3 linked regions of the Homo sapiens genome follow. The protein of the gene in region 3 binds, or shares a complex with, the protein of the main gene of each other region. Links are inferred from orthologs where the notes say so. Each region holds a gene or a part of one and is shown on either strand. Other genes may lie near its edges.

What was found. Proteins that work in one complex are often made in the same cells at the same time.
Region 1: the proteins of NEDD4 (region 3) and ARRDC3 are in contact, whole or in part, in a crystal structure (PDB 4N7H), measured with the Homo sapiens proteins. Residues at the interface, in NP_001271267.1 of Homo sapiens: Glu847, Arg849, Ala851, Pro852, Phe857, Ile859, Asp860, His861, Lys864, Thr865, Thr866, Thr867, Trp868; in NP_065852.1 of Homo sapiens: Glu344, Ala345, Pro346, Pro347, Ser348, Tyr349, Val352.
Region 2: the proteins of NEDD4 (region 3) and GJA1 are in contact, whole or in part, in an NMR structure (PDB 2N8T), measured with the Rattus norvegicus proteins. The link is inferred for Homo sapiens from one-to-one orthologs. Residues at the interface, in NP_037118.1 of Rattus norvegicus: Asp416, Asp417, Tyr422, Val424, Asp425, His426, Ser428, Lys429, Thr430, Thr431, Thr432, Trp433; in NP_036699.1 of Rattus norvegicus: Pro277, Leu278, Ser279, Pro280, Met281, Ser282, Pro283, Pro284, Gly285, Tyr286.

Annotation. Positions count from the first base shown.
Region 1 is NC_000005.10:91,368,131-91,373,317, forward strand, and holds the end of ARRDC3 (arrestin domain-containing protein 3), read right to left. Parts: intron 3,327-5,187; coding exon 3,270-3,326; 3' UTR 501-3,269; downstream 1-500. UniProt on the Homo sapiens protein: Adapter protein that plays a role in regulating cell-surface expression of adrenergic receptors and probably also other G protein-coupled receptors.
Region 2 is NC_000006.12:121,438,646-121,445,645, forward strand, and holds part of GJA1 (gap junction alpha-1 protein), read left to right. Parts: intron 1-4,971; exon of another isoform or gene 4,972-5,048; intron 5,049-7,000. UniProt on the Homo sapiens protein: Gap junction protein that acts as a regulator of bladder capacity. A gap junction consists of a cluster of closely packed pairs of transmembrane channels, the connexons, through which materials of low MW diffuse from one cell to a neighboring cell.
Region 3 is NC_000015.10:55,990,555-55,998,260, reverse strand, and holds the start of NEDD4 (E3 ubiquitin-protein ligase NEDD4), read left to right. Parts: upstream 1-4,648; 5' UTR 4,649-4,705; coding exon 4,706-4,750; intron 4,751-6,255; exon of another isoform or gene 6,256-6,335; intron 6,336-7,706. UniProt on the Homo sapiens protein: E3 ubiquitin-protein ligase which accepts ubiquitin from an E2 ubiquitin-conjugating enzyme in the form of a thioester and then directly transfers the ubiquitin to targeted substrates. Specifically ubiquitinates 'Lys-63' in target proteins.

The DNA of each region.
Region 1 (5,187 bases), on a different chromosome or scaffold from region 3:
GGCAGGAGGATTGCTTGAACCTGGGAAGTCAAGGCTGAAGTGGGCCGAGATCCTGCCACTACACTGCAGCCTGGGTGACAAAGTGAGACACTCTCTTAAAAAAAAAAAAAACTATGTTATGTTTATGTACTCTTGAAATACTGGTAATTTGAACACAACACAGTGAGAAGGAATTGGTGCCTGAAAGTGAATTATTTTACCTGGTTAAGTTTGCTTCATATTTAAGATTGAAATTTAGAGTCTGGACATGGTGTCTCACGCCTGTAATCCCAGTGCTTTGTGAAGCCAAGTTGGGAGGATCGCTTGAGGCCCGAGTTTGAGATCAGCTTGGGTAACATAGTGAGACCACGACTACAAAAAAATTAGAAAATTAGGTGGGTGTGGTGGTGTGCACCTGTAGTCCTAGCTACTTCGGAGGTTGAGACAGGAGGACTACTTTAGCCTAGGAGTTGGTCAGTAATTTTCTTTAGTACAGACCTAGATACAATTCTTACCCAGAATGGCTTAAAATAGAGTTTAATAGTTTAATTTAATGTGTTTGCATGTATGGTGAGTTACTAATATGATCAAGATTCAAATAAATCTCCAAACAATTATACAAAACAGAAAAAAACAAAACACTTTATTTTCCACAAGGAAGAGCAATAGGAAAAATTAAATCATTTCCCACATATTGTTTTCTTAAAACAGAGCCTACAAGGACATATTCAGCACCAAATAAAAAAGGAAAAAAAGAGAAATTACAAACAGCCATAGAATATAATCTATAAAGCAAACATTTAATATTGCACTTTGTTTTGCTAACATTTTGGATTTTACTTTTCCTAATTGAAAAATCAGGAATCTATCTTGAATACTGGAATACAACTGTGAACCTCACATCTTATGTCAGGAATTGACCAATATTTTTAAAAAAGTAATGCCTCTAAAGAAATACATTTTAAAGGGGAAAATAAAACTTTATTTGATAAAGTTTTATACATTTAAAGTTTTATCACATTTTGTGATCCAGTGCCAATTATCAGAATATTGGTCATTCTTGCTTCATGTGTTATTTGTAAGAGTATATAATGACAAGTATTCCAATGCTATGCATATCAACAATTGTTCCCTAGTCAGTTAGACGTAAGAGAGAAAAGGGATTTTCTGACAATCCCCCTCAAACAAAAATAAAACCACCAAATGCCCTTTATGCCAAATATTCCATTAGCTTTTTTTGAGGGGGACATTCACAAAATGATTCAACAATAAAAAAATATTTCACCCCCATTTCCTTATTATCTAGTATTAGTTTGCTACGGGAGCCCAAACTCTTTAACCGAATCACTTAAAACGCGATTCATTTTTACACTGGGCTTTCTTCACCCTGTCAGCATTTGTCAAACATGAATTGTCTTCCATGTTTTCTTAAAGGCCACTTATGGAAAAGCCTATTTGTTTTGTATGAGCTTTAAGACAGTATTTAACCAGGTCAAGCACCAAGCCAGAGCTACTATTATTTTCAGCCACTTTATTAACTGTGGGGTTAAATGGCAGGATAGATGTAACACCCATTTTACACGTATGTTGCAACATCAGAGATGCTGGTTTTCTTTAAAAACATCAGAGCTGAATTCCTTCTAAAATACAACAACAACAACAACAACAAAATAAGTACACTTGGTACCTTGGAAAATGCTGAAATGCTATCATGAATGCTGGTATATTTGTTATGAGCCAACAGAAAATTACCTTTAATATAAACTATAACTTACTGATGTGATTGTTCTTCCTATGTAATCTATACATAATCAAAGTGAGTGATTTCTCATGTTTAGCAAATTGTTCTTTAGGTAATGAAAAACAGTATTCTCATTAGAAAAACACAAAAATCCAAAAGATTTATCGCAGCAAACGTTCTAGTATTTTAAATTTTGAAGTTACTTTTGGAATAAAGTCGAGTTTTCATGCCATACCAAGCTTGAGCAAGACAGCAAAGGTACAAATTGAGCTCTCTATTCATAACCTCAATGTATGTATTCCTGCTCATTAATATACTTTGCACCAGCAAAAGCGATTTCCAACATATGTGTTTTGGAGGTAATTAAGTAACTCTGTATAAAAATAAATGCACTTTTCCCTCCTTTCCCCAGTGAATGGAAAACTTCCATACTTTCAAAATAATAATAAAAAAAATAATTTTTAAGAGCAACAGCCCTCAACTCTTTGCTGGTGCCTGCCATACTGCCTTTCTTCACTCCATTCTTAGCTCTGCTAGTTTCTTCTTGTATGTCATGATAAAAAGGGAATGTGGGTGTGTAACTTTTGTGTATGTCCCGTTTCCAAATTTCCCTCTCCAAAAAGCCAACCAAATAAACAAACAAACAAACGAAAAAAACAGTGCAACAAAACACAAATAGCATTCCAACAGTTTGGCAAGTGATGCGTTCACCTGAGATTAAGTGATTTTAGGCAGTCAGTAACAAAATGCTGCTTTGCTGTAATAGTAGAAAGGCAACAAATTCTTAAAAGAAACCAAGAAGGTATACAATCTTGACAGTCTCTTATTAGCTTCCTCCTCTTATCTCTTTTTTTCCCACATTATCTGTTGCGTATCTACTACAGTAGGCTGCAAAACATACAGCAAAAAGGATTGGCTTGAAGGCATTTGATGTTTGTAAATAAATCCACAATTGGATCCAAGCTGAAGAGGTGATACATAGTCAGCCTAGTAGACAATTCTGAGCATGTGCATACGCAGGTAAAGTCCAGGCTATATTAAATAAAAAAAAATGTCAGTGCGTTTTTTCATGTTAAAGTTTTTTCAAAGCTTTGTTTTGTTCCTTGTTGTGCTGACCACAAACAAGTTTTAAGAGTATCAAGAGTCTGGCAAAAATAGAAAAAAAAAAAAAAAAAAAAAGAAGCTGTAGTGACGTCGAACCGCACAATGTAAGCATTGAGCATGTGCAAATTTTCAAATCAAAAGAAGGAAATCATCCCTCTTTACAACGTGATGTCTTGACACGTACGACCATAGGCTAAGAAGACTGCTCTGAGTATGTGCCAGTTTTAAAAGAGAAAAGCTTAGATCTTCAAGCATGTTGGAGCAGTCTCAGAATGTTGCTGTAGGCTTCTAAAGCATGATCACTGGTTGTTTCATGTATTCGCCATTTTTCTGGGCAAAAGTAATTCCACTTCCTCTGAAACGTGTCTCCAAGATACTTCTCTGTCCTCAGCCGGAAGAGATACAGTTCGGAACCCACATCAACTTGATTCAACCAAGTGTTCCTTCAACGAGAGGGGCAGGATGGTCTATCATCTGCTGACTGATCAGGATTTGGATCAATCTAGAAAGAAATGAGAAAAAAAGTTTACAGAGTTATTTCATGAGGTCTAGGAAGAATGTAGCAAATGACTACAATTCTGAATACTAGTCAAGAAATGTAATCAGAGAGCAAACACAGCTTGTTAGCATATTATATCCAATTATTCTCTTTTCATACGTGAAATGCTATGTGGGGAGGAAAGGGTGTTGGTACCTACAGTACCTGATATTTAATTACTAGATTAACAAGCTTTATAAAGGCATGTCTGAATAGTCCCCTATTTCACAAAAATTAACAGTAAAATTTTATCAGTGAATGAAGACTTTTACTCAGTACTTTAGTAGTACTTAATTAAGACCTAAATACACAACGTAGAATATCTTCATAGCAATCATCTTCTTTTGTAAAGCACCCCTTTCATCCTTCTACAAAAAAGTTAACTCATCGCTTCCTCTGACTTTGGAAAAATGAAATCGTATAAACAATGCTCTTTGTTTATACAATGTGCAAACAATTTGTTTACTCACATGAACAATGTGCTTATGTGAGGTAATAACTCATGGGTGTAAAATCCCACAGAGGGCCAAAAACGCAGTGTATCAGGAAATAAAACTGCTGAACCCAAAACACTCAAGAGGTTTCCTCCCACCTTCTTTATCTTCAGAGTGACTTTTATATGCACATATTTTTAATGAAAAGTTGCTTCTCAAGTACAAAGAGAATGGTCATAGAAAAGCAAATTGTTGGGTTTAATATATTTTTTACTGAAAGAGCTTTTGGACGAGACCCCATCCACTTGCATCTAAATGTGGAACAACCCAAATTGCCTCAGAAGCTTTAGGTAAAACACATTTTTGAAGGAAAAAAGCCAAATAACTTTTAGTTAAATCACACCCTGAACATATTTTAGGGTTTTAAAAGTTGTAAATTATCTTTAGTGCTTTTTAAAAGGAGGCAGAATTTTCCCACAAATTGCTTAAAAGTGAACTATACTTAGATTGTCATTCTTTTTAAAATGCCTCCTTGGACAGCCAGGAAGCCTCAAATCAAGCCAGAAATGACTGACTTAATAAGCAAGACAGAAATGTCCAAGTAAAAATGTAATGACAAAATCTGTAACAAGTGGCAGAACACTTTTAGCATCTAATAGAAATTGTATGTATTAGAAAATAAATAGAAAAAATTATGTCTCATCAATAATTCTGAATATTCTATAATCAATGAATGAAGAAGATCTCATATCATCACAACCAAAGGAAAACTGACCCTTCCAGTTATGGTGTTAATAAAAAAAAAGAGAAATATGATGAACAATCCCCTAATGTTTAATTTGGGAGTAATATTTCAGAGTAAAACAGCTATGTAAATTACAGTAACCAAAAGAAAAAGCTGATTCTAGTAATTTACAGAATTATTTTGGTATCAAAACCAACTCCAAAACCCCTTAAAAATGTGTACTAGTGGCTAAAGTCACTCTGAAATATCCTGAAATTACTGGACACCCCACCTACTCACTCCTTGTCTTTACATACACTGTTCTTCCTGCCTTTTGAGGACTACTCATTCTTCAAAATTCAGCTTAATAGTCACCTTTTCAAGAAGCCCCACCTGATGCCCAAGACCTAATAAGCTGCTTCTCAAATGAGCTGTGCATTTTATCACATTATTACATAATATTTTGCTTCTTAGCTTGTTTTCCTCAGTAATCTGTGGGTTTCTCCTAAGGGCCATGTTTTATTTACATTTAAGTGCTTAGCTGCCATCAATATGAGATGAACGAAAATAGTCTAACCATGTGGGAATGTTGTTTTAAGATGTTATCACAAATACATTATTTCTTATGACTGAGAATGTCAAAATATGCAATTGGAAAAGCATCATG
Region 2 (7,000 bases), on a different chromosome or scaffold from region 3:
TTATTTGAAGAGATGTGTGGGAGCTTATCCGCACACACCAGTTCAACTCTGGAGAGAAAAAGTAATTATCTAGTGTTTATTATTAATGTAATATTCTGTATGGATAATTCAAGTTTTAAAAAATCTCCAGAGCATCTCTTCCATGGGAGATTAATGTATATATTTTTTAAATTCTTAGCATAATTGTCTAAACCTCCATCTAAAGTCACCTTTTAACTATGTATGTACAGATTGTCTTTTACCTATTTTCAAACTGTGGTTAGCTCTTTTTTTTTAATACATCAGTGGCTTATACAATTTCATAAATTTCACATTCCAATTTCCCTATGCTTTTAAAATAATATTTTAAGAAAAATATATGTTTATCGTCAGCTGGGCATGATGGCTCATGCCTGTAATCCTAGCCCTTTGAGAGGCTGAGGTGGGAGGATCGCTTGGGGCCAGGAGTTTAAAACCAGCCTGAGCAACATAGCAAGACCCCACCTCTATAAAAAAAAATTTTAAAAAGAAAATGTATGTTTGTCAATCATTTCTTAGTTGCTGTTTTGCTAAAGAAAAGATGAAAAATTTAAAACCAAATGAGCTATATCTAAAGGTCGTCTAAAGAGTAAGAACCAAACTTTACTGAGCTGTTACTAAGAGCATCACATGCATGAGTTATTTATTAAATTCTCATTGAAAAAAATAGACTATCTTAATCAATACACTTGTGAGGGCCCTAAGGGTGTCTTTATATGATTATAAAATAACAAGGCTATTCACTAAAAATAGTCAATTTGGAGGTGGAAGTAAGAGTAGGGGCAGAGGAAACGCCAAGGACTGATAGAAATATATTAAGTTACATCACAATTGAAGAACATGGCTTTTAGCCTCAGCTTCTGACTTGGGATTTTCTCTCTGGTAGCCCTAAATTGATCTTGAGAAACTTGTTTTGGGGGAGAATTGAGTAGTAGCTGTTGAACTAGGGAGAGGATTGTCTTTTATGGGATGCACCATCCTCTCTTTGGATGGAGTTCCTCACACCTCAATTCCCATCTCATCTCATTAAGTGGATGCTAATGTAAGTTCAGTGATGAGGAGGGGTAAGAGCTGGGGAAGGAAGGCTTGTTGGTGTTTTTATGTTGTCCTCCCCTCTGCCCCCAAAATAAGCAGTTCACAACATCAAATACCTACACAAATGTGCAATTATTTATAAATATATTTTTACATACAGTAAGTTTGATACACTATAGTTAGGCCATCTAGGTATAAATAAGGAAGTAAAGGTTGGGTATTATCTGATGAACTGGGAATCTTTTCCATGGTACTTGAATCTAATCACTTTAGTGCCTGCATAGACTCAGACTGTAAAGATGTTACATTAACCAGGGTTAATATCAACTGCTGCTCTTCCCCTTCAGAGCCCTAGCCTTCCCCGATATTTATCATTCTTGAAATAAACACGATTTTAAACAGGCTATTTCTTCTTGTAATAGTGTCCTTGTCTACAATAAAATTGTGTGGTGCAATCGGAGTTAGAACATCGTAGAACTAGGGGACAACCACACAGTTGTGTTTTTTCCTTTTTTTTTTTGTTTTGTGTTTTAAATCTTAACCTGCAACAACCTAACAGTGAACTGAATGTACAAGCATGATACCTGATGCAGTTCTACAAGAATCCTAACCCTCATTAGGATCTCATTTAACAAATTCAGGAAGCTCTTTGTTAAAAAGCCTTTTTTCTTTTTTCTTTTAAGCCTGTCAAATTTAGCAGTGGGGGTTGCAAAGAGCCTTTTTTCTTAATTTAGCTCTTTTGCCTGCTCAGGAATCATTTGAAGCATGTTGTTTCAACAAACAGTTCTCTGTTTCAGCAATTGTCACTTGAAAATTTAACAGTATGAGAATGAGATGATGACAATAGTTTTTTACTGTGAAGTTTCCTTTTTAATTAATTTGAAACTTTAGAAATTTGAGATATAACTACAATTAAGAGAATCCCAAAGAGACAGAAAAAAACAAACTTTTTTTTTTTTTTTGCACAGTATCTTTCTATTTTTTGTGGAAGCCCCATTTAATTCATTTAACATGTAGCTATACCCCAATTAATTAATTCTTTTCTTTTCTTTTCTTTTTTTGAGACGGAGTTTCACTCTATCACCCGGGTTGGAGTGCAGTGGTGTGATCTCTGCTCACTGCAGCCTCCGCCTCCCGGGTTCAAGCAATTCTCCTGCCTCAGCCTCCAGAGTAGCTGGGATTACAGGCACCCGCCACCACGCCTGGCTACTTTTTTGTTGTTGTTGTTGTTGTTGTTGTTGTTGTTTGTCGTTTTTTTCTTTGAGACGGAGTCTCGCTCTGTCGCCCAGGCTGGAGTGCAGTGGCGCGATCCCGGCTCACTGCAAGCTCCGCCTCCCGGGTTCACGCCATTCTCCTGCCTCAGCCTCCCGAGTAGCTGGGACTACAGGTGCCCGCCACCACGCCCGGCTAATTTTTTTGTATTTTTTTTATTTTTAGTAGAGACGGGGTTTCACTGTGTTAGCCAGGATGGTCTCTATCTCCTAACCTCGTGATCCGCCCGCCTCGGCCTCCCAAAGTGCTGGGACTACAGGCTTAAGCCACCGCACCCGGTCTACTTTTTTGTGTTTTTAGTAGAGATGGGATTTCACTATGTTGGCCAGGCTGATCTCAAACTCTTGACCTCAGATGATCCTCCCACCTCGGCCTCCCAAAGTGCTGGAATTACAGGTGTGAGCCACATCTCTTACTCTTTCAAGCACTGGGGATACAGCAGTGAACAAAGCAAACTCCCTCGTATTGTTCACATTCCAGTTAAGGAAGACAAATAATAAATCCTTCTCATGGAAGGAGGTACATAGTAATCAGGCAAATATTTACTATATCAAGTAGAGAGAAAGTCTATTAAAATAATAATTTTTTAAAAACCAGGGCAAAGGGAATAGGAAATGACAGGACTGGGGAAAGGATGTTGCTATTTCATATTTGGTGGTCAGGAAAGTTGGCTGATGAGGTGAGACCTGCAACAAGTGAGGACGTGAGCTGCGTGGATGGAGCAGAGCTCATCAAACCAAGCTGATTGTTGGTTTGTTTTCTCAAGATTGACTGATTACTCGGAGTATAGGTTGGCAAGTAGGGTGACCAGGCTAATGACATGAAACCTAGCAAACTGATGATGGCTGAGATCAAGCTAAGGGTGGCTGTTTTAAGTGCGGAGGAATAGACAACTGAGTTCACTCAATGACATTTACTGGAGGGGCAGAGGTTATTATAAAAGTGAAAGAAAACATTACAAGGGTTTGCATTTGAGTTTTTGGGCATGAATATTTTTGGGTGTTAGTACATTAGACACACACATGATTTCCCTTTCCTCCCAAAAAATCCATTAAATGATTTTATCGGGAACTTCCATAGACATTTCCTTATGTAGGTTTAGACTCTGATTTTATTCTTTCAGATATTAAAGTCCTTCACCTTCTCTTTTCTTTCAATCATAAAAAGATGCTGGATATCAAATTTCACTTTAGTTTTCAATAATCCTATTTACCTTTATTTAAGTCTCCATTCTCAACTCATTACATTTGTCTCTTCTTGAGAAAAATATTTAAAGTCGATAGTAAAATACTTAATTCTAATAACTATTAGTATATTAATGGCATGGAAAGACTTGACTGCAACTTCGGCACATGCTCTAGCAAAAGGCATAGTCAAATGTAATTTAAAATCAAAGCTTTATTTTTAAGAGATCTCATTTGAATTAAAGCGTTTAAGTTCTTCTGCTCTCAGGGAGCTGCAGATGGAGATGTAAGGAGTGACAAGGGGCTGTGGAGCCAAGGCTGACCTCAATGCCGGGTGCCCAGAGAGCTGCTGCTCCTGGTACTCAGCCCCTTGGATTTTTTAGACTGTTCCTTCTGCTTTCCTGACATTTCTCCCACTCCTAAATATTTTGAACAAGAAAGGGCCAGAAATGTCAAGAATAGTAACAAACACCAAAAAAACCTTACTTCCTAGGCCCCACCTCCAGAAATTCAGATTCATTCAGACTGGTGAAGACCAGGAATGTATGTTTTTAACAAATGCTGCCAAGTGACTGTGATGCAGTTCAGGAAAGGGGCCAGAGGAGCCTCAGGCTGGTCACACTTAGTGCCTGTAGCTTTGGGCATCCATCCAGTCTAGGGGGCCATGAAGAGCAATGGAAATGTAATCTAACATGGTGCATAGACGGCAAAAAGCGTGGTCCAGCTGCTAAGACTCTGCTCTTAACAAGAACTTTGCACAACTCCTCTTAGACAGACCTTGGTCTACATATAAAGCACCAACTCAGTATCCTAGAGGTGAAGGCATGAATATATGTGATATGTCCAGCTGCGTTGGTCTTCTCATGTATCAAATAAGAAATATACCTGTTTCCCCCTGGTGAATAAAAGTGCAGTTTATAGTCTGTAGATCAATGCCAGGGATTCTGTAAACATATAATTATGCCCTTTTATTATAAGAGGGTATTAACTTACCATACAAGACTTGGAAAAATGAAGATATTAAACTAGTTTGGGAAGGTGCAGCAGGGAGGAACAACCAGTTGCCAAAATTTGATTCATGGCAAAGTGAGCAACTACCAAAAAAAAAGGGAACAATTTTTGTTACCTGTTTTTGGGCAGCTGTCACATTAAACATTATTTGATGGTATCTATGATAGTGGAGATCGACAGGTAGCTACATGTTACAGGATACTCGGTGTCCAATTCGATAATTCGTATCTTATTAAGATGAAAGAGTATAACTCATTAATGCAAATGACAACTGCATGGGTGCTTAAAGAAAAGACAACTTTGCAATTAAGTTACTAGAGTATTAAAAAAGAACTAATGAAGAGCTGTCTGATGACTTAGTTCACATACTATGGAACTGTGGAGTGTTTTTGTAGAATCTCAAAATTATATGAAAGTCATGTATCATGAATTTTTTTATAGAATGTAAATAAAGACTATACTTTCAGGGATCATTTCTATAGTTTGTTACTAGAATGTAAATAAACTTAGTGATGAATTACTATAAGCATCTACACAATCATATTTTACTTTGAGTAATGATGAAATCCTAGCTAAAATAACTTCTGTTCTGCCTGGTCATATTTCTAGATATGATAGGTTTGTCTTCAGCTCTATCGTTGCATGAATGTGATGAGATGTATGCAAAGTTTATCTTTTTATACTTGATTGTTTTTGTTATTTTTCCCCTAGCAATTGAAATATGTGAGCAAAAGCAGATGACACTGGCAAAATACTGTAATTTTTTACAAACAGAATTAGGGCCAATTTTACACATCATCACATAGAAACTGTCTATTGATATAGCTCCAAAGATTCTGTTTGTCTGACCCTCATGGACTATACTTCTTCATTTCCAGTCTAGTATTTTCTGCTAAATTGTAGGGTTTTTTTTTCTTTCACATTCTCTCACCATCAAACTGTCCATCACGGCTAAATTACTCCCTCACTTCAAGCCTTTCCTTGGCTATTCAACTGTCTTTGTCAGCCTTTCAAGCCTTTGTTCTTATTTGACTGCTGTTTTAAATTGATGCTGTTTTCATACATCAATTTCACTTCCTAACTTGTCACTTCAGAATCTAAAATGACCCTTCCTAAGTAAAAGGGAAGCTCCCTTTCTTATGACCACTGGGGGAGTGTTATTTCTGTGGCCTTCACACCCACCTCCCACTCTTACTCAGCATTCTTTGGCACTAGTCCCTGGGCTGTCATCAAATGTACCCATGATACCGTGGTACCATCTAGCTGGTGCATAGTTTAGCTTTATGGCTCAGCCATCTCTTCTTTGTTCGGTCCAGGAAATCCCAGGTCAGGTGCCCATTTCATTTTTTCTTGTTCTCTATGGCCAGAAGATGCAGTCATTAGACAGAAATGTAATGTTGCTTACTGAGGAAGAAGACTCCCCTGGATTTCATTTACTTCCTACAAGGAGATACAGCTCAATAGTTCAACACCAGAAGAGAAACTCCTTTATATTCAGATAGTGAACATATTTCTAAGAAGCCTAAATAATCCTACCTTTAGATACTCTATTTAGAATTCATTACTAAGCTCCTGCAAAGTCTTAGCTTTGCTTGTTTTTAATTATTAAACAATCTTTGACTAATTTGTCCTTTTCTAAATCCTCCAATTACTACTATGTGCTGAAAATTAGCCTATATTCCCTATGCCTGCCACATCATGTTACTCACTTCTTCCCAGCTTTCAGCCCTGGCTAAGGTTGTGTATATCAAAGCCTGGAAACATTTCTAGCTTTAGCGCAGCCTTACTGTACTTTTAAAACCAGTGTGAGGCATTGAAAAGACTTGCCCGGGGATTGTGAATCTTCTTCTGGCTCTGTCTATAGCTAAATATTTCCTATACCCTGAGAACCTCTGAGAACCTCAATTTTTATCAGCTAAATGGATAATCGGCAATTAGAAGCATAAATTGAACTAGACAACTTTGGGGATTCTTGTTGGTTTCTACTGACTTACATCTTTTTAGTGAGACGGAGTCTCTCTTTGTCACCCAGGCTGGAGTGCAGTGGCGTGATCTCTGCAAGCTCCGCCTCCCGGGTTCAAGCGATTCTCTTGCCTTAGCCTCCCGAGTAGCTGGGACTACAGGCTCCCACCACCACACCTGGCTAATTTCTTGTATTTTTTGTAGAGACGGGGTTTCACCATGTTAGCCAGGATGGTCTGAATCTCCTGACCTCATGATCCACCCGCCTCCCAAAGTGCTTATAGGCGTGAGTGCATTATAGGCGTGAGCCACCACGCCTGGCCAGATCTTTTTCTTATCCTCAGTAATGGAGAAGGCGTGGACTTTAGATAGCTAGATATTGATAAGAAGTTAAATGGGATGTATAGCCTGAGGGTCCAAAGCCCAGTAAGGGAACTTTAAAGTATATAACAATGAAAGATGAAAACCAATCTTTTCTGGCTGGAGAAAACACCCTGAAGTAGGTTTTGTTTGTTTGT
Region 3 (7,706 bases):
ACCTGGGATTATAGGCGTAAGCCACCGTGCCCAGCCATAACAAATCTCTTTATATATCTGCATCCTATTGGTTCTGTTTCTCTAGGGAACCATAATACAGGGTCTTTAATCTGTCAGTCTGGAACAGTTCCTCCAACTTTCTTGACTTCTATGTCCTTGACACTTTTGAAGATTACAGGGCAGATATTTTGTAGTACGTTCCTTAAATTGGATTTGTTTTCTCATGATTAGATCCAAGTTATGGAGGAAAAGCAATGGGTTGCAAGATTTTGGTTTATCAAATGTTCACTTTGATCATTTGATTAAGGTGGTATATTTCAGCCTTTTAATCTATGTAACTAAGTACTTTCTGGAAATATATGTTGAACCCTGTAAAAATCTCATTTTTCATTGAACTTTGAATGTACTCATTTATTATAATTTATATCTGTAATGAACACATGGTACCAGAATTATTCATTGGATTATAATCTGTTGCTATCATAATTTATTTTAGTGCTCAAGTTAGGCCATCTTTGGCCAGTGGGAGCTTTTTTCAGGTTGGTTCCTGTGTCCTTTTATTCTGTCTCCATCATTACTTTCATTATTTTCTGGGATAACAAGATGTTTCAGGCTCAACTTTTATTTGCCTTGTCCTAGTCCTGGAATCAGCCATTTTTCCAAGGAGCCCTGGTTTCTTTTAGTAAAAAGTTAAAATATGGATGCAAGATATGCTCATTGCTTTTGGGGTGTCATTGTTCCCAGGCCCTCTTAGAATACAAATGTAGAAAATATTTGTGTGTGTGTGTGTGTGTGTGTGTGTGTGTGTGTGTATGCAGCAGAGGTTTACATCTACATTTATTTATATACTATATATATATGTTAAAAACTTTTGAGTTCATATCAACACCACCAATTTCATTATAACAACACAAGACTCATTCAAGTTTTCTCTTTCCATTCTTGTAACTTCTTCAACAGTGACTAATGTGGTTCTCATTATCATTCATATATTCACTTATTGGATCACTTGTCTCTACAAGTAACTAATTTCCCATTTCTGCCATCACCAGTCCACCAAGCAAACCCTTCCTTGAACACACCTGGGTCCCACTGCCTTGCACCTGGCCGTCTTTCTCACTACCTCCCACCCCTTGTGGGGTGAGGAGGGCATTTTAAAAGATGACCATGATACCTGAACTCTCTTCTTTACTCCTTCCTCTGCCTTGTAACCTGGAACATAGACGTAATGATTGAAGCTTGAGCCACTCTCTGGACTATGAGGATAAGGGTCACACCTACAAACATCAGAGCAGTGAGCTGTGAAGTGCCTGAATTTCTGACCCTTTGGCAGAGCAAACTAGCCATATTAACCCTGCCCTGCCCACTGTCTAGACTTTTACATGACAGCCATATAACATGAATCTTTAAATCTTATTAGTTTAGGTAACAGCCAAATGTAATTCTACTTGATAAAGATGTCCACAGCTAGAGGCCAGCGGGAACACAGATACATCTACTAATTCCAGGAGGGAGTGATGAGAACCTTTATCACCAAGATGAGGGAGCACAACAGCCTGTTAGAAGTCAGAATCCAGCTTAGCAAAAAGAGGGTCAGGCAAGACCAATGAATTGATTGGGACTATGTATTCTACTACTGGAGGCAGAAACTTAGTTCATTTCAGAAAATCAAATAAACATTTCTTGCACTACTGAGCTCTGGATCTGAGATGGGCTCTATGAAGAAAGTAGCTGAAACTATGGTAATGGCAATGGCAATGGATGAGGTCCAGGGAGTTTCCAGTGGAAGAAAAAATGAACCTTAAAAATCTCAAACATTAACTATTAGAAAGGAAGCAGCCAGGGGATATTAAGAGTAAGAGAGAATTAAAGGAGAACTTCTGAACAAGACTTTTTTATATCCCTTAGGGAATTAATTACCAACATTAAAGTGCATTTCGTATCATTACCTTTCATATTGTTACATTCCACATCCAATTTTGATCCCAGGGGGTGATATTTTAAAAACTAGAAACAATTTCTGCATCACAGTGAAATCTATAGGCAGAGTTAAAGAGGTTTACGTATACAGACTACTAGAAAGTCTAGACCAGGTTTACTGGTTTTCATTCATTTCTTGCTTCTTAATCAGTTTGGAGGCTCATGTAAAGGCAGATTTGAAGGGAGAAAAGACTCAAGAACAAGAGATAGAAGGGGTGATGCTATTGGAGGTTGCTAGAATTGCCTGGATTTTGGCTTGGGATGATCCCTAGCACAGGTATGAGGCACAGAATCAATTGTTATGCACCATGTCACATTCTTCACACGTGCCTCACATGGTTATACACACACTCAAACCAAATCAACATGAACCTAATTGAAGGCAGCCTAGGTAGACAAAACGCCTTCATGAGAGTTCTGCGCAGTTGAGTGATATGTAGAGGAGTTCTTCATTCTAAACAGCTTTCTCAGTGGTGGTTGGTTATTGGACCACCAGCTGATATCACCATCCCGATTTGAGCTTCCTTTAATTTCAGGTGCCCCTCCTAGCTGTTGACCGGGATACAATAATTACTCTAGTTCATCTTGTATTGGTAGCTGTTTAATTCTTCATGATTTCATATTCGGAAAGACAGAATAAGAAATCATGAGTCAAATCAGTGGTCTTTAGAAGTATCATCACTAATACCTATTGGATACATCAAATGGCCAATTTGCTTTACTTTATAATCCCTTGGGGATTTACTGATTTTTTTTTTTTTAATTACCAGTTTTAGGCTGTGTATACTTCTCATATATTCATTAAATTTTAGTAGCAGTAACGGAAGCTGTTTTTACACGTTTGTAATTGTGCCCTGAAATGACACTGAATTAACTTAAATTCAAATGACTTAACTAACTTAAAATTAAACATAAAAATGTGTATCATGAGAGATGAGGGAAATATTCGCAAAATAGAAGGGCACACAATATTTTCAGATTATTTTATTCTTAACCCACAAATCCCACAGATATGTGACAACTTAAAAAACAAATTAATGCTCTCATGGCTTTTTCGATTTAGGTAAGCCAACAATTCCTGACCATTCTGTAATTTTGTAGTCATGTTTGATTAAGTGCCATCTCTTTCCCCCTAATACGGATAAAATCTGAATTGTGTATTAACAGAATTTTGATACATATTATATGAATGAAATGGATCCTACCAATCATAAAGTACGACAATTGAGGTGGAGTCTTGTTCTGTCGCCCAGGCTGGAGTGCAACGGCGCAATCTTGGCTCACTGTAACCTCCTCCTCCCAAGCTCAAGCGATTCCCTTGCCTCAGCCACCCAAGCAGCTGGGACTCCAGGCGCCCGCCACCACGCCCAGCTAATTTTTGTGTTTTTAGTAGAGACAGGGTTTTACTATGTTGGCCAGGTTGGGCTCGAACTCCTGACCTAAGGTGATTCACCGCCTTAGGTTTCCCAAAGTGCTGGGATTACAGGCGTGAGCCACCGCGCCCGGCCAAGTACGAGAAAAATCTTACGTAACAAACCAGTAATATGGGCTATAGCCTTGTTCCCACGTAGCATCTTAAACTGTTAAAAATAAATCAGAGTTATTCTGAAATCATTGAGGAAAATAAAAATTAGATTTTGAGATTGCAGAATTCTGCAAATTTCTGCAAATGTATAAAAACAACATGATATAAATTGTGGCCTGGGTGTTCATAATTCTCCCCAGACTCTTTTATGGATGCCTTATTTGGTGGAGGTCTTCCTGTAATTATGGAATTATAAAGCCCATCAGACAGGAATATTAAAAAGCATGATTATTCCATAACCTTATTCCACAGGAGGAGTTATTCCACAGGAGGAGTTATTCTACAGGAGGTCCTAGTTCACTTTATTTTTCCCTCTTCGTCACTGCCTTCTGGTGGTGCTGCGGATCAACGCCCAGCTAAAGCAGGTTTAGAGGGTCAGCCTGGAGATTGGATTGTTACTGGTGGGATTTAAAGATGGACAGACCATAGGACAACAAATAGCTTAGGAACTGGCACTGTTTACAAATCCTAGGGAGAGAATTTCAGATCCCGAGTCCAAGACTGCTGCGATCCCTCCAGGCCTCCCCATTTGCTGCCACGCTCAGGCTTTCCCTGGCGGTCCCCAGGTCCAGCTTCTTATGGGAATGACACCCTTAACCGACAAGAAAGCGCTATGATTTTCCGTTTGGGATTTAAGCGGGGATTAAGCTCACGGATTCCCAGGCGTCTAGTCAGAGGCCGAACTCTGGGTCGGATCTCAGCGAGACTTGTTGCTGAGGAACACTGCAGCTTGGCTTCCCGGCGCTTCCCGGCGCTCCCTGGCTCCCCGGCGGGCCCGTCAACCACCCACCTCCCGGGAAGGGACCGAGGGCGCGCCCCGCCACGCGCGCTCCCCACGCCATGGTCCCCGCCGCGCGCGCTCATCCCACCCGAGCCCCGCCGCACGCCCTCCCCACTCCCCGAGCCCCGCCACGCGCGCCCCCGCCCAGCCCCAGGAGCGCGCGCCGCCGGCCTTTTCCCGCCGCGCTGCCGGGTGCCGCTAGTGCCCGCTCGCCGCGGGAGGCGCTGCTGTCGCTGAGGGAGCGCCTCCTCCTCTTCCTCCAACTCTTCCCCGCCTCCTCCCGCTTCTCCTCCTCCTCCTCCACAGTTGCCTGCCCTGGGCGGGGGCGAGCGCGTCCGGTTTGCTGGAAGCGTTCGGAAATGGCAACTTGCGCGGTGGAGGTGTTCGGGCTCCTGGAGGACGAGGTGCGGGGACCGCGGGGCTGCGGGGCGGGCTTCCCTTCGGGTTATTCAGCAGCCGGACCCGGGGAGGTAGCGGCGGCGGCCACGACCGGAGGCTCTGCTGTCAGCCCCTCCTCCCTCGGCGCGAGCCTGGGGAGCGCGCGAGGCGCCGCGGGGACTGTGGGGGCGGCTCGGCGCGCGGGCGCTGGGGGCTCGCTGGAGGGAGCAAGCTTGTCGGGTCCACACCCGCCCCTTCCCGGAGCGGCCGCCGCCTTACTTGTCAGTTTCCTTCAGGAAGTGTTGAGGAGGGGGCTAGGCGGTCGGCGGGGGACCCACATCACCGCGCCAGCCCCTTCCTGCCACCCCCGCCGGGTGTGCGGAGCTCCCAGGCGTTGGGAGACGGTCGCAGCATCCCCGCTGTTGATTTGCTTGCTCTGGCGGAGGCCGGGCCGACTTAACTTTACGGACTTCGGTCTGGAGAGTTCCAAGTGAATTGTCATTCGCTGGTTTGTTTTTTTCTTCTTTATCTGAAATCCTTTTTAATCCCCTAACTAGAGACAGGGATGGGAGAGCAGGAACATAAATTTTCCTCCTCCTCTTTAGCAACAAGTGTCTAGTGTGAGAAGTTCATGCTTTATTTCACCGGTCGTCGTTGATGTTAAAAAGTGAAGCCAAAAAAGTATAAATACTTTATAAAGAAGTTACCACATCTGTTCCCTTTGAAAACTAGATTAAGCTCTGGGATTTGAAGAAGGCAAAGCTGTTTCTTTTCAGCTAAATAACTAATGCTGATTATGCCTATGCTTATTAAAAATATTGTACGACCATTTGGAAAGGTTGTTCCGTCGTAAATGATATGTGGCTTCTGTGTGTTCTTGGAGATTGTCTCAAAAATGCAAATGGGTGGGAGATGAAAAGGCTGCATGTAGTCTAACAGTGACTGGTTCCGAGTGAAAAAAATCAAGTTTTTTGCTTTCTTGTTGGCTGACTAAGCTGCCACATGTACCTTTTATCAAGATGAGACCCAGTTAACTGAAAATCCATCAACCTAATTTATACTGCTTGCTTAAGTATTGTAATATTTAAGTTGTATAGTTCCTTCTCTTAGTACCTTGGTGTCGTCAAACATTTTACACTTCTCTTGAGAGTTCTTTGTTTATAAAGGGTGGGCAATTTGTTAATGCAGTTATTTCAGGATATTTTGAGAATGCTTACGTGATGCGATTAGAATTTAATTTCCTAGCTATTGCTGCCAGAAGAGAAATAAAGTGATGATGGACAAATGGTGGCGGCTCATAGTCCCTCAGAAACAATAGTCAATGTGTTACAGCTAAAGATATCATTCTAGCTAATGGCACCTTTATTCTGTAGACGAGATCAGAAGATAATACAGCACTTCACCTGTGGTCGCTTTCTTATCAGTCAGATTTCCCTGCTTGCTACGTAGACTGCCCAGTGCAGTTGACTTCAAGGTGGTGTCCAACCCAATCAGGCTGACCTTGGACTTTCTTTCCCTGCTATATTCACAGGTAGGCCCTGCTAATTGCAGATTTCTCATCTCACCGCCTTCCAGCAGAGCCAGTTGATCTTAAAGAAAATAGTGCCAAAGGTATCATTCACCATCTGTTTTCTCCCTCTTGGTACATGATCAGTGTTTTTAATTATCTACTTTAGTAATTTCTCTGTTTTCAATCATCACCCCTCTGCCCAGCTGAAATAAAACTAATTGTGGCAGTTAATGGGTGGTCGGTAAGGAACTGGGGCCAAAGGCCAGAAACTCCACCCTTTGAAATGTGGATTTCCTGAACTTGCTGAAGGATTTGTACTTCTAGGAAGTTTCATGGACTGTGGCCTATCCCATTCACATTCTGGGAGTTCTGGCTGTCAGTTCCATGACTCTAATTTGCTTCTGTCCCCGCTCTATTTTGTCCACATTGAGGAAGGGAGTGAGATAGGAAGATAAGAGACATGATGATGAAGAGTCTTCCACTTCTTCCATTGTAATTGGATTATTCATTCAACAGACATTCATTTACTGTTTGCTCTGTACCATGCATTGTGCTAGGCACCAGGGATAGAGAGGGAAAAAAGACAGTCTCAGCCTCGGACTGAGGGAAAGATAAAAGTCACTTTTTTTCTTGTGGAGGTTGCCCTCTCCACTATCATTTGCCATTTATTTTCTGGTCTATCACAAAAGTAAAAGAAGGATTGAAACCACACTCCCCCATCCTCCCCACCCCCAAACACCCCTTTTGTTAAAGGAAGAAAGCATTGCAGCTATGTCACTTCTAAAACTCACAGACTAGTCTGGAAATAGGCAGCCCTCTGCTGTTGATTAAAAGTAAAGTGCTTTTTCATTACAACAAAAGGAGAGGATTCTTATTTTAAATTTGAAACTAAAACAGGGAGAAAAATAATTTGAAATGGGATAGAAGATAGTGAAAGAATTGTAATTTAATCAGTATATAGTGAATAGTCGCTGAGTCAGTGTCTGAGCATATTAGCACTGAAGTATGCTAAAATGTAGATCATAATACCTTTCTCTCACTTTTCAGTGAGTTTTGGCTCTTCTTCCACATATAAGTGACTTATAGTAAGAGATCACCCTGGCTGCATGTGCAGGATTTTACCTTTAAAGTGTTAACAAACAAAGGAGGAAGTGTAGTATAATTTATACCAGATTTGCTCTGGTCACTTGAGATTCACAGTAGAGAATAACATGCACTGATCTTTATTGGAGAGCAGTGTGGTGGATGCGGGGACTGGAATTGAGCATCACTTCCCACCTCCTTCCCATGCACCTCCCTGTGATATGGAGGTGGGAAAACTAAACACTGTTTCCCACACTCCATTGAAATTAATGGACTGGATCCAAAGTAGGCTCCCCAGTTAAGTGCACTTACTTGAGATTTGCAGAGTGGAAATGAGGTGGAGCATATTGTTTTGTTTCTTTGGCTTTTTCTGCTGATAAGCACAGTCA